Homo sapiens: one gene and its partners. The protein of the gene in region 2 purifies or fractionates together with the protein of the main gene of each other region. This does not show direct contact. Each region holds a gene or a part of one and is shown on either strand. Other genes may lie near its edges.

Region 1 (3,536 bases), about 28 Mb from region 2:
GCTGATCTTGAACTCCTGACCTCAGGCTTCGGCCTCCCAAAGTGCTGGGATTACAGGCATGAACCACCGCCCCTGGCCAAAAAAAAAAAAAAATCTTTTTTTTTTTTCTTTTTTTTTGAGAGGGAGTCTCACTGTCGCCCAGGCTGGAGTGCAGTGGCGCGATCTCGGCTCACTGCAGGCTCCGCCGCCCAGGGTTCATGCCATTCTCCTGCCTCAGCCTCCCGAGTAGCTGGGACTACAGGCACCCGCCACCTCGCCCGGCTAATTTTTTGTATTTTTAGTAGAGACGGGGTTTCACCGTGTTAGCCAGGATGGTCTAGATCTCTTGACCTCGTGATCTGCCCGCCTCCGCCTCCCAAAGTGCTGGGATTACAGGCATGAGCCACCACGCCCGGCCAAAAAAAAAAAACTTTTGTGTTTTGTTTGTTTGTTTGTTTTCTTTTTGAGACGGAGTCGCTCTGTCACCCACGCTGGAGTGCAGTGGCGCGATCTCGGCTCACTGCAAGCTCCGCCTCCCGGGTTCATACCATTCTCCTGCCTCAGCCTCCCGAGTAGCTGGGATTACAGGCGCCCGCCACCATGCCCAGCTAATTTTTTGTATTTTTAGTATAGATGGGGTTTCACCGTGTTAGCCAGGATGGTCTCGATCTCCTGACCTCGTGATCCGCCCATCTCAGCCTCCCAAAGTGCTGGGATTACAGGCATGAGCCACCGTGCCCGGCCAAAAAAAAAATCTTTTAAAAGTAATTTTTTTCACAGGTTCTGAGGATTGGGGAAAGAACAGAAAAAGAAGAAAATTTAAAATAAAAATAATTTTTTAAAGCATCAAGGTAGTCATCAAAGTCAAGACAAATCAGAACTCTGTTGGCTTCTTTTACACTTATTTTACTATTTTATATTGCATTTATTTTGTTTTTGTTTGTTTGTTTGTTTTGAGATAGGGTCTTGCTCTGTCACCCAGCTAGAGTTCAGTGGCGTTACCACGGCTCACTGCAACCTCGACTTCGCCAGCTGAAGTGATCCTCCCACTTCAGCCTCCCAAGTAGCTGGGACTATAGGCACATGCCACCGTGCCTGGCTAATTTTTGTATTTTTTTGTAGAGATGGGGTTTTGCCATATTGCCCAGGCTGGTCTTGAATTCCTGAGCTCAAGCAATCCACCTGCCTCATCCTCCCAAAGTGCTGGGAATACAGGCGTGAGCCACCGCACCCAGCCAATTTTGAATTACCTGAGTAGGGACAATGTAACTTTTCTGGTACTCAGGTTCTCTAAGGATCTTAATCTGGCCCTGCTGGGACCCCTTTCTCCTATAGTGTGATTCTTGGAGCAAATACCCGGCCAGACTTGGATCTCCGAGACCCCATCTGTGATGACTTCTTCCAGTTGTGGCAAGACATGGCTGAGAGCAACGCCAATATCTATGAGCAGGTGGGAACTTGGGAGGGGTGGGGGAGAGTGGCCTGGGGAAATTTGTGGATTATCCTGCTCAGGGTAGGATGGAGAGAAGCGCCACCATACAGTCATTATTGGAAGGGGGATGAGGGCCTGGGGACATTTGCTATCAAGAGATTTAGTGGCCCAGGCCGGGTGCAGTGGCTCATGCCTGTAATCCCAGCACTTTGGGAGGCCAAGGCCCGGTGGATCACCTGAGGTCAGGAGTTTGAGATCAGCCTCCCAACATGGCAAAACCCCATCTCTACTAAAAATACAAAAAAATTAGCTAGGTGTGGCTGGGAGGCTGAGGCAGGAGAATCTCTTGAACTCAGGAGACAGAGATTTCAGTGAGCCGAGATCACGCCATTGCACTCCAGCCACCTGGGCAACAAGAGCAAAACTCTGTCTCAAAAAAAAAAAGTACAAAAGTTAGCCGGGCATGGTGGTGGGCACCTGTAATCCCAGCTACTCAGGAGGCAGAGGCAGGAGAATCACTTGAACCCGAGAGGTGGAGATTGTAGTGAGCCGAGATCGCACCATTGCACTCCAGCCTGGGCAAAAAGAGTGAAACTCCGTCTCAAAAAAAAAAAGAGAGAGAGAGTTAGTGGCCCAGGGTCAACGGGGGGTATGGAGAGATGGTATGGGGGAAGGGGTCTAGCCTAGTTGGACTTAGATTGTTGGGAGAGTCTCCCCAAGCCTTACTGGCGTCCATGCCCCCGCCCACAGATCTTCCGCTGCCTGCCATCCAATGCCACGCGTTCCCTGCGGACTCTCCGGGAGTACGTGGCCGTGGAGCCCTTGGCCACGGTCAGTCCCCCCTTGGCTCGGTCTGAGCTCACCCAGGTCCAGGGCCACCTGGTCCACTTCCCCCTCAAGTTCCTAGAGGATGAGTCTTTGCTGCCCCCGCTGGGTAGCAAGGAGGGCATGATCCCCCTAGAAGTGTGGACATAGTTGAGGCCCCCGTCAGGGAGAGGTCACCAGCTGCTGTGCCCCACCACGTCTGGCTCCCTGCCCCTTAACCCCAAGGACTGAGGGCAGTGCCCTTTGAGATCTGGGGAGGCAGGCATTCCTGAAGGGAACTAGAGGTGTTACAGAGGACCCTTACGTGAGAAATAGCTGAAAAGGGCACTCCCAACCCTGGGCTGGGGAGGAGGAGAGAGTCCCAGAGCTCATCCCCCCTGCTGCCCAGTGCAAACCACTTCTCCATGCTGCAAAGGAGAAGCACAGCTCCTGCCAGGGTGAGCAGGGTCAAGCCTCTTATTCCAGGAGAAGGGGGCTCTGCCCCAGGCCCTACTACCCATTGTTCCCTTCCTCTTCCTGCCCTTGAACCCCCTCCCTGTCCCAGGGCCCTCCCAGCCCATTGCTGCCAAGGTGGAGGGAAGGATAAAGCCACTTCTGGCTTCAGCCCCCACCAGGGGAAGGAAGGAGGGCACATTAACTCCCTCCACCAGCCTGCTGACAGACACTAACTTTGTATCCGTTCAATAAGCATTTCATAAATAAAGGTGTAGAAAAGGTTCATGCGTCTTCCTTGGAGGAACTAACTGCTCGTTCCAGCCTCCCGTTCCTGCCCACACGGGGCACCAGTCCCCTTCACCTTATCTCCACCCTCCTCCACTCTCCTCTCTCCACCTCTGTTCTACCTATCTGTGGCTTCGGGAGCTCGGTCACCTGGCTCCTGAGAGGAGAAGGTGTTGACACAGTGCCGCCTGGGTAGAAGGACGGGCAGGGCCCAACCAGGGCACCTGGAGAACTGTGGAGCTGCTATCACAACCGCAGGTGAGGGAGATGCTCTGAGAAGGACCTAGAGAGGCTGCCTCTTGTTCAAGCAACAGCCCTGGTAGAGGCTTAATGAAGGCCCTGTGGGAGTGGTTGAGGGTATAGGCTTAAGGTCAGGAAGACCTGGACCCAAATCCTGGACTCCTCAATGAGAAGCTAGGTGAACTTGTCAAGTCATTCACTTCTCTGGGCCTCAGTGGTCCCCGCTGGGAAATGGGAATAATACTTACATGACTAGCTTGCTGTCAAGACTCAGCCATTGACTTAAATATTTATTGATTCCCTGCTATTTGCCAGCTCTGTTCTAGACTCACAGAAGTGA
Region 2 (4,352 bases):
AAACCCACCTAAGGGACATTTACACACGAATGGCTGGACAGGCATGCATCATGCTGGGGCCTGGCACCAGAACTCCTCCAAGGCAGACTGCACAAGGCAGATACCTTCTGTCCAACAGCTGCGTTATCCAGACCCACAGCGTGGGGGAACCGGCACAGCAAATGGTTTACAAACCCTAAGCACAGCTTCTCCTGGCCGCGGCTGTTTGCATCCACATGCCTGCTAGGATGCTTTCTCAACTCCGGAGCAATCCTCCAGACCAGAAGACCCACACTTACATTTTATGGGGGACGGAGGCCAGGTGAAGGGCCCAACCCTGGCGCACCACTGCTCAGTTCCGCTGGATGCTCAAGACTCCTGCATTTTGAAAAAGTAGCCAAAGCATGCTGCTGCCTCTCCCACCAAACTGTCTACAGCTTCAGTGTTGGTTTTCTGGGAGTTTCCTCACAAGTTCTCCTAGATTCTAAGTGTTTGGGAACTTTGAAGACATAAGCTGCTTCGGATCGTAGGCCTGCTTAGGGACTCTGCGTGATTCCCCTGATGATCCATTTTTCAAGCGCTTCCTTTTTTTTTTTTTTTTTTTTAAGAGCCGTCTATTGGTTTTCCCAAAGACAAGAAGTCCGCACTTAAGAGATCTACACTCCAAACACAGAGCAGTTTCTTGGAGTCCTGAGGGCCTGGAGTTGAGGTCGGGAAGAAGGAGGCTGACTAATATTCACAGACGGGACCATAAGGAGTAGAATGAGGGCTTTGGGGGCTGACACTGGAAGGAGGGGCTGGGACAGGGGAGCTCCCACTGGTGGGAGGCGACTCCTCCTACAGTTAAGTCCAAGTTCCCACAACCTGCAGGAGAAGACTCAGGGGACCCAAGAATGGGTTCTGCCTTGGCATCGTGGAGTGGTAACACTGCAAGAGGCCTGGGGACAGCCCCGAGGGGGCGGAACACCAGGCCTCCTGACTGCCGGGGAGTGGGGCGCAGAGGGAGCGGGTTCGCGCGGAGGGCAACTCACGGAGGAGAAGTTGTGCGGCCCGCAGAGCTCGCCGCGGTACTTGCAGGAGAGCAGCATGTCCTCCAGCTGGTGGCCCAGGCGGTCCATGAAGGCGGCGCTGATTCCCTCGAAGTGGCGCGGAGGCAGGAAGAGGCGGAAGTCCGCCAGCTTGCGGAACCACTGGCGGCGCGGCTCGTCGCCCCGCAGCAGCTCGCTGACAAGCGGGCGCGCGGTGCGGTTGGGCAGCAGCAGCCCGAGCCAGTGGCCGGCATAGTAGAGGTCCCCCTTGGAGAGGCGCGGGAAGCGCAGCGGGTTGTTGTTGCACACAGTGACGGCGGGGAAGGGTAACTGGCGGCTCCACTCGCGGTGCACCCGCGTGTGTGACGGGAAGCTGAGCCAGTAGAGCAAGCGGTTCGAGGACCAGGACAGCAGCAAGCCGAAGGATGTACAGAAGGCCAGCACCCACAGCGCCCGCCGCTGGAAGGAGCCCCCAGCCGCCGTGCGCCCGGCACACATGTGCCGCAGCCCGTGCAGTTTAGCGCGGCTCAGCGATGGCCGCCCCCTGCGGGCGACCCCTGGCCCCTGCAGCGCCCGCTCGCCGCCTCTGCCGCCCCCGGGCTGCCCGGCAGCCGCCAACGCCGCGGGCGCCGGCTCCTCGCGGGCCATGCGGAAGCGTCCCGGGCCGGTGAGCGCGGCTGCGGGCAGCCCGGCTCCGCCAATCCGGCTCATTCATTCAGCCCGCGGCTGGCGGCAGCGGCGGCGGCCCCGGCCGGGCGGAGCCGCCATGGGAGTCCGCAGCAGCAGTGGAAGCAGCAGCAGCGGCAGCCGCGCGCAGCCCGCGCCAGGGAAGCGTGCGCCCGAAAGGAGCTCCGGTGGCGCGGCATGCCCGCCCGGCGCCGCCGCTGCCGCCTCCGCGGGCGCCCGCCCGGGGCTGAGCGCCGCCTCAGCCCGCAGCCCCTGGCAGTGGCCTCTCCCGAGCGCCTCCCAGGCTTTCCCGGCCCCTGGTCTTCCTGGAGGATGCCCGGCGCCCGGCACTACTTCTGGAGGGGTCCCACTGGGAGCCGCCTCTCCAGTCCCTGGGTGCTGCGCCCGCCTTCCCTCGTCCTGGACCTCGGGGGACCCTGAGCCGAGTCCCCCCTGCCCCGCCTAACCCCAGCTTTTACGCTGGTCCTGGGAGAAGGGCCACTCGGCCACCATGCCTGATCTGGACATCCCCAGGGACCCCACCAGCCCGGCCCGTAGCCCAGCGGTGCTGGGACACGGGAGAGAAGGCGCCAAGGAACGAGCGCCCCCAGAGGCGCACCGCGGCTCCTGGCTGGGCGGGCGGGGTGGGTGTGTACGGGGGTGAGTGGTCGCCTTGCCGGCTGCCGCCTTCTTTCCCTTCCCCTCCAGGACCCTTCCTTGTTACTGCTCCCTGGGCTGCGCTCGGCAGAGACCTGCTTAGGCTTCCCCAAGTCCTGCGCCTAAGTCCTGCCAGGCGCCCGCTCTCGCCTGGGGCTGAGAGCTTCTCAGGGCGTCCTGCGGGAGGCTGTTCGCCGCCGGGGTCCTTCAAGGATGCTAGCCGCAGGGAAGTGTCGCTTCTCGCCTCGGCTCTCCCAGGTGCCTCGCGTCTCCAGAAAAGCCCAGCCTTGCTGTCTCTCGCGTCTTCTCTCTGCCCCCGCGGCGACAAGAGCTGGGGACTGCGGGGACCCGCCAACACCTCCCGGGGGTGACCCGGACTCGCTGCTCCGCGCGCCCTTCTCCTCTCGAGACTCCGAGCTCGCGGTGGCCGTGACGCCGGCTAAGCTCCTTCCCCGGTTGCCCGGGAGAACCCTCTTTGGGCCCCAGGCGAACTTGGGCAGCGGCCGCGCGACGCTGGCGCGGCTGGGCTCCGAGCACCTGCTCCTCAGCTCGCTGGCCCCGCGGCTCCGGGCGGGCGGGGCGGCGGCGGCCGTGAGCGCCGTGCGCTCCTGGAGACGCGGTGCTGACGCGCCCGGCTCCTCCTCGCTGCATTTTAATTCCTGGCCACTGTGGCCGCTGCACACCGAGCGGGAAGCCTCTTGCTGGAGTCGGCCGGGTGCGGGGGTGGGGTGTGGTGGGGAGCGGGATGGGGATGCGCTGTACAGATGTGCTCAGGTGTATGGGCTTGTGGGAGAGATAAGTAGTATAACCATTGTGCTGATGTGGCCCCAGTGTAGACAGGGGTGAGAGGACTCCTGAGGGTGTGAGATGGGCTGTAGAGAGAGCGAGTTGCTGTGTAGTGTGGGCATTTGAACACGATTGCGAGTGTGGTGCCAAGTATTGGGTGTGCGTAGGATGTGCATTGTGTATGTGTGAATGGGCATTTCTGTGAAACTCTTGAATGTGAGCATGTCTGCGGGTGGCGTGCTGTGGCCATTAGAGTGTGGTGCATGCAGGATGTAGTGTCTATGGTGACGTGTATGTTCCGTGTGTGTATGTGTGCACTTAGTGAGTCCTGGGTTTGAAATGCATGTGTTGATGTGTGGATGGATATCAGGGTTTCTAGATGTGGTGTGTGGTTGGTGTGTTTTGTGTGTGTGTGTATGTGCATGTGTTGTATGTAATGAGTATGTGTGTTGAGGCATTGCGAGCAGGGTAGGCTCAGTGCGACAATCCTCCCCTCAGCCTCTTAGGGACATCCCATGTGTGTCCCAGCCCCTTCCCTGGAAGTGCCTACTGCTCAGCCCTGGCCCAGTCTGCCAAGCACAGCTCTCCAAGAGGGTGGGAAGGGGGAGTAGGACTTCCAGGGACAGGAGACTCCATCTTTCCCATTCCCCTTGCTGGGACAGGGAACACTTGGAGCCCCATTACTCCATGAGATAAAGGGGTTTTCCAGACATTATCCGGAGAGTAGAATTTGGTGGTGGAGGCAGTGTGAAGGGACTCCAAGGGTGGGAGGATGCTCCAGTGGAAGAAGGACCAACGTGTGTATCCTTTGGGGAGAGGAGGCTTGGGGAAGCAGAGATTTGGGTGTGGAGAGGAGTTTTACCGTCTTTGTAATGATGAATTAGGGGCAATTTGGCCAGATCTGTTGAATGAGCTGTGGGTTTCCAAGCAGGAGAGAAGCAGTGCTGGGATGGGCTTTCCCTCCCCACTGACCTGAGGGCACCCTTACAGCGTGATGACTCCCTGCATCTGGTCTCTGGAGAAGAGGACCTCTGAGCCCCTCATTTCCCACTCACCCACATACATACATCCACACAGTCACACATGTACAAGCACACATATACACAAACACACACACACACTACACATACAACACACATATACATGAACATACATGTATACCAACATATACACTTAAATGCATATATACCCAATGCATACTGCATACATACATACACACAACACACATACATATAC
Region 3 (3,646 bases), on a different chromosome or scaffold from region 2:
GAAATTTAACCAAAGGGGCTAAGAATAGGAAAAAAAAATGAAGATGATGTTTTAGATATTGTTTTTTAAATGTCACCATTATTCCTGCTTTGGAATAAAAAGAGGTAAGAGGTAAGGTAGGAGTACAGAATTTGGGGATGAAGTATATTTTTGGCACTAACATCACTGTGATGTTAAAACTATTTTTAAAAGATAATAAATACCCACACCTCTGACTTACTAATTATTTTACTAAATTTATTGCTCTCTATGCTATTTATGTTTATTATTTCTATATGGTGAAAATACTGTAACTATTGCACGTCTTCCCCAAACTGTATGTTCTAGTGATATCATGTTGGTAACTTGGAAGCGGCCATGATAGGAATTTCTTTTTTTGAGACAGAATTTCACTCTTGTTGTCCAGGCAGGAGTGCAATGGTGCTATCTCAGCTAACTGCAACTTCCGCCTCCCAGGTCCAAGCGATTCTCCTGCCTCAGCCTCCCAAGTAGCTGGGATTACAGGTGCATACCACCATGCCAGGCTTATTTTGTATTTTTAGTAGATACAGGCTTTCACCATGTTGGTCAGGCTGGTCTTGAACTCCTGACCTAGTGATCCTCCTGCCTTGGCCTTCCAGGAATATTTACACCATCGAAATTGGCAAACACTACAGTTAGGGTTTCTCCTCCACCCGGACCTGGTTGCTAAGCATTTCTCAGCACACCACTGGCTTTGCCCAGGGGGTATATCCGAGCTTCTCCACCCCATCTTTCTTTCTCATTATGACCAAAGAGATTTCTCCTGCACTTTTCTGTCAACCGTCACAGTGATTCTGAATTTGGGGATGTGGTTGGGGAGAAAGGAATACGCTTAGTTATGCAATGTTCTTATCTCTCTGTGCCTATGATCTGGTCTGGTACAAGTCTCAACTGCATTCAATTTAACCCTTGATTCTTCCTTTTGTAGAGATAGAATTCTCCCTGCAACCTCCTGAAGAGCTGGCCTTCCCTCCTTCTCCATCACAGTAGTTCCAAAGTCTGGCTAAACAAAATCACCTGGGAACTTCTTAAAATACAAATTTCCAGGTTCTATCACATATGTAATAAATTTAGATTCTTGAGGAATGGGACTCAAAATAGTATTTTGTAAGTTCCCTTGGGAGTTTGATGATCACCCCATGTGCCTTCTGGGCCCCTCTTGTGGGCTCTTGCTCTCCAGCCCTGGCACCTGTGTACCTTGCTTAGAATCAGGTCATCTGGGCTGCTGGACCCTGGCCACATTGTATGGTAGCCTCGATTTTTATGTTTGAACTCAAATTCTGATCCTGTGAAACTTGGTAATCAGGGGCCACTCTTTGCCCCATTGGCCTGATTTCTCATGCTCATTCATTGGAGCCTGGGTTTCTAACTAGGAAGGCAGCTAGCGTGTTGCAGGGAGACTATCAGAGGAGTCAGGTGTGCTAAGTTTCATTTCTACTTTAGCGTCTGTGTAACCTTGATCAACTTGTTTCTCACCTTTCTGAACTACAGTTGCCTATCTCCAGAGTTTGTTAGGAAGGTTGTTTTTAGAACACATCAAGCTTTGTTCCATCTTAGGGCCTTTTAATCATGCTATTCCCTCTGCCTGGAGCACACTTCTCCTAAGTCTTTGCATGGCTTCCTTCTTTTTTGTCATTTGGATCAATGACAAAATGGTCAAATGTTATCTCCTTGGAAAGGTTTTTTCCCTGACCATTGAAAGCTGCCTCACTTCACAGTCCACATTGCATTGCTTGCTACCTGATCCTGTTCCAGCCTTTCACCTAGGGTTATTTTCATGCTAGGATTCACCACTATCTGAAATTCTTTTTCTTTTCTCTTTTTCTTGCTTACTGGGTTTTCTACACAAGAACTTAAGCTTTATGAGAGTAGGGACTTTCCTGACATGTAGTAGGTGCTCACTAACTACTTGTTGAATGACTACCTTTCCAAGTTGTTATATAAATATATGATGTTAGTGTGAACCCTGGTTCCCAAGGGATTCATTTGTTTTCCTAATTGTTCTTTTCTGACCTCACAGATGTTGCTGTTTTTATGACAATGATTCATTGCTGAGATATTACTGCAATTTGGAACAAAGTGCTGCTCTCAACTGATGAGAAATAAAATCTGTAGCTTTCTATGTGAATGCCTCCTGTCGTTTTCAGAGAGCTTGCAAAAACTTGTTTCAGTTGCATCTGTCATGTGGGTGTATAATCTGTGATAGAATGGATCGATTAAACATGAAAGTATCGTAACATAAATGAGACTGATTTGGGGAAACTCCTGTTTCCTACCTTTTTTGAGTTCTACCGGGGTGGTTTTTGGTAGTGTCATGGGGACTAGGGAAATGTGTATCACTTTGTAAGAAAGGCAGGCCATAGGCTGGGCACAGTGGCTCATGCCTGTTATCCCGGCACTTTGGAAGGCTGAGGCAGGTAGATCACTTGAGGACAGGAGTTCAAGACCAGCCTGACCAACACGGTGAAACCTCATCTCTACTAAAAATACAAAAATTAGCTGCGTGTGGTGGTGAGTGCCTGTAATCCTAGCTACTTGGGAGGCTGAGGCAGGAGAATTGCTTGAACCTAGGAGGTGGAGGTTACAGTGAGCTGAGATCGTGCCATAGCACTCCAGCCTGGGTGACAGAGCGAGACTCCGTCTCAAAACAAAAACAAGAAACAAAAAGAAAGGCATGCCAGAAACGCATGTTGGATATGTTCGTCCTGTCTGATCTCACCAGATACACGGGGTAGGTTTGACTGACAGTGAAGTAATTTTTGCAGATCCATTGCCTGGAAGGCCAATAAAGTTGGCAGTGAAAGCTTTCATCCTGTATTTGCAATAGCCCCTCTTCAGGATGGTGTTGAAGAATTTATCAAGCACAGAGTCTTTTTGGTGCTAACACAGTACTAGGCCTAGGCTAGTGAGTCTAAAATGTGGTTCCAGCCCCACAGCTTATAGTCTAATGCAGTCATCCAAAGGCAGGACTGAATTGTGCAGCAGAATCCTGCCAGGCCTCCTGAAATGGGCTGGCTTTTATAATGATTGTATGTTCCAATTTTCCTTGATAGTGATTTTCAAACTGCTTTGTTTCAGGGCAGTACAGTGGTATGAATATTTGTCTTCCTCAAATTCATATGTTGAAATCCTCACCCCAAGGGGTGATGGTATTAGGAGGTGAGGCCTTTAGGAGATGATTAGGCCATGGTGGCTCTGCCCTTATCAATGAGATTAGTGCCTTTATAAAAGAGGCCAGAGAGGGACCTCTGACTCTCTTCACTAAGTGACGGGTTAGTGAAAAGGCAGCCTCTGGGGAAGCAGGCCTTCACCAGACACCAAATCTGCAAGCACCTTGATCTTGGACTTCCTAGCCCCCAGAACTGTGAGAAGTAAGTTTCTGTTGTTTATAAGCCACCTAGTCTATGGTATTTTGTTACAGTAGCCTGAGTGGACTAAGACAGGTGGCTGGCATTGGAGTAGAGATTGGGTCCAGGGATGTAGACAGCAGACTTCTGGAGCATCTCTAAATACCACATTTAATCAGAGCATCTCATTTAGAAAACATACTATTGTATATTTGCCTTTTAAAAATTATGTTTGGGCCAGGCACGGTGGTTCATGACTGTAATCTCAGCACTTTGGG

What was found.
Region 1: the proteins of ASIC2 (region 2) and PLD2 purify together in Homo sapiens (affinity purification with mass spectrometry; one large-scale study listed by BioGRID and IntAct). This does not show direct contact.
Region 3: the proteins of ASIC2 (region 2) and PLD1 purify together in Homo sapiens (affinity purification with mass spectrometry; one large-scale study listed by BioGRID and IntAct). This does not show direct contact.

Annotation. Positions count from the first base shown.
Region 1 is NC_000017.11:4,820,479-4,824,014, forward strand, and holds the end of PLD2 (phospholipase D2), read left to right. Parts: intron 1-1,314; coding exon 1,315-1,429; intron 1,430-2,161; coding exon 2,162-2,386; 3' UTR 2,387-2,952; downstream 2,953-3,536.
Region 2 is NC_000017.11:33,290,398-33,294,749, forward strand, and holds the start of ASIC2 (acid-sensing ion channel 2), read right to left. Parts: upstream 2,899-4,352; 5' UTR 1,719-2,898; coding exon 1,011-1,718; intron 1-1,010. UniProt on the Homo sapiens protein: Forms pH-gated trimeric sodium channels that act as postsynaptic excitatory sensors in the nervous system. Upon extracellular acidification, these channels generate rapid, transient inward currents that fully desensitize.
Region 3 is NC_000003.12:171,800,466-171,804,111, reverse strand, and holds part of PLD1 (phospholipase D1), read left to right. Parts: intron 1-3,646. UniProt on the Homo sapiens protein: Function as phospholipase selective for phosphatidylcholine. Implicated as a critical step in numerous cellular pathways, including signal transduction, membrane trafficking, and the regulation of mitosis.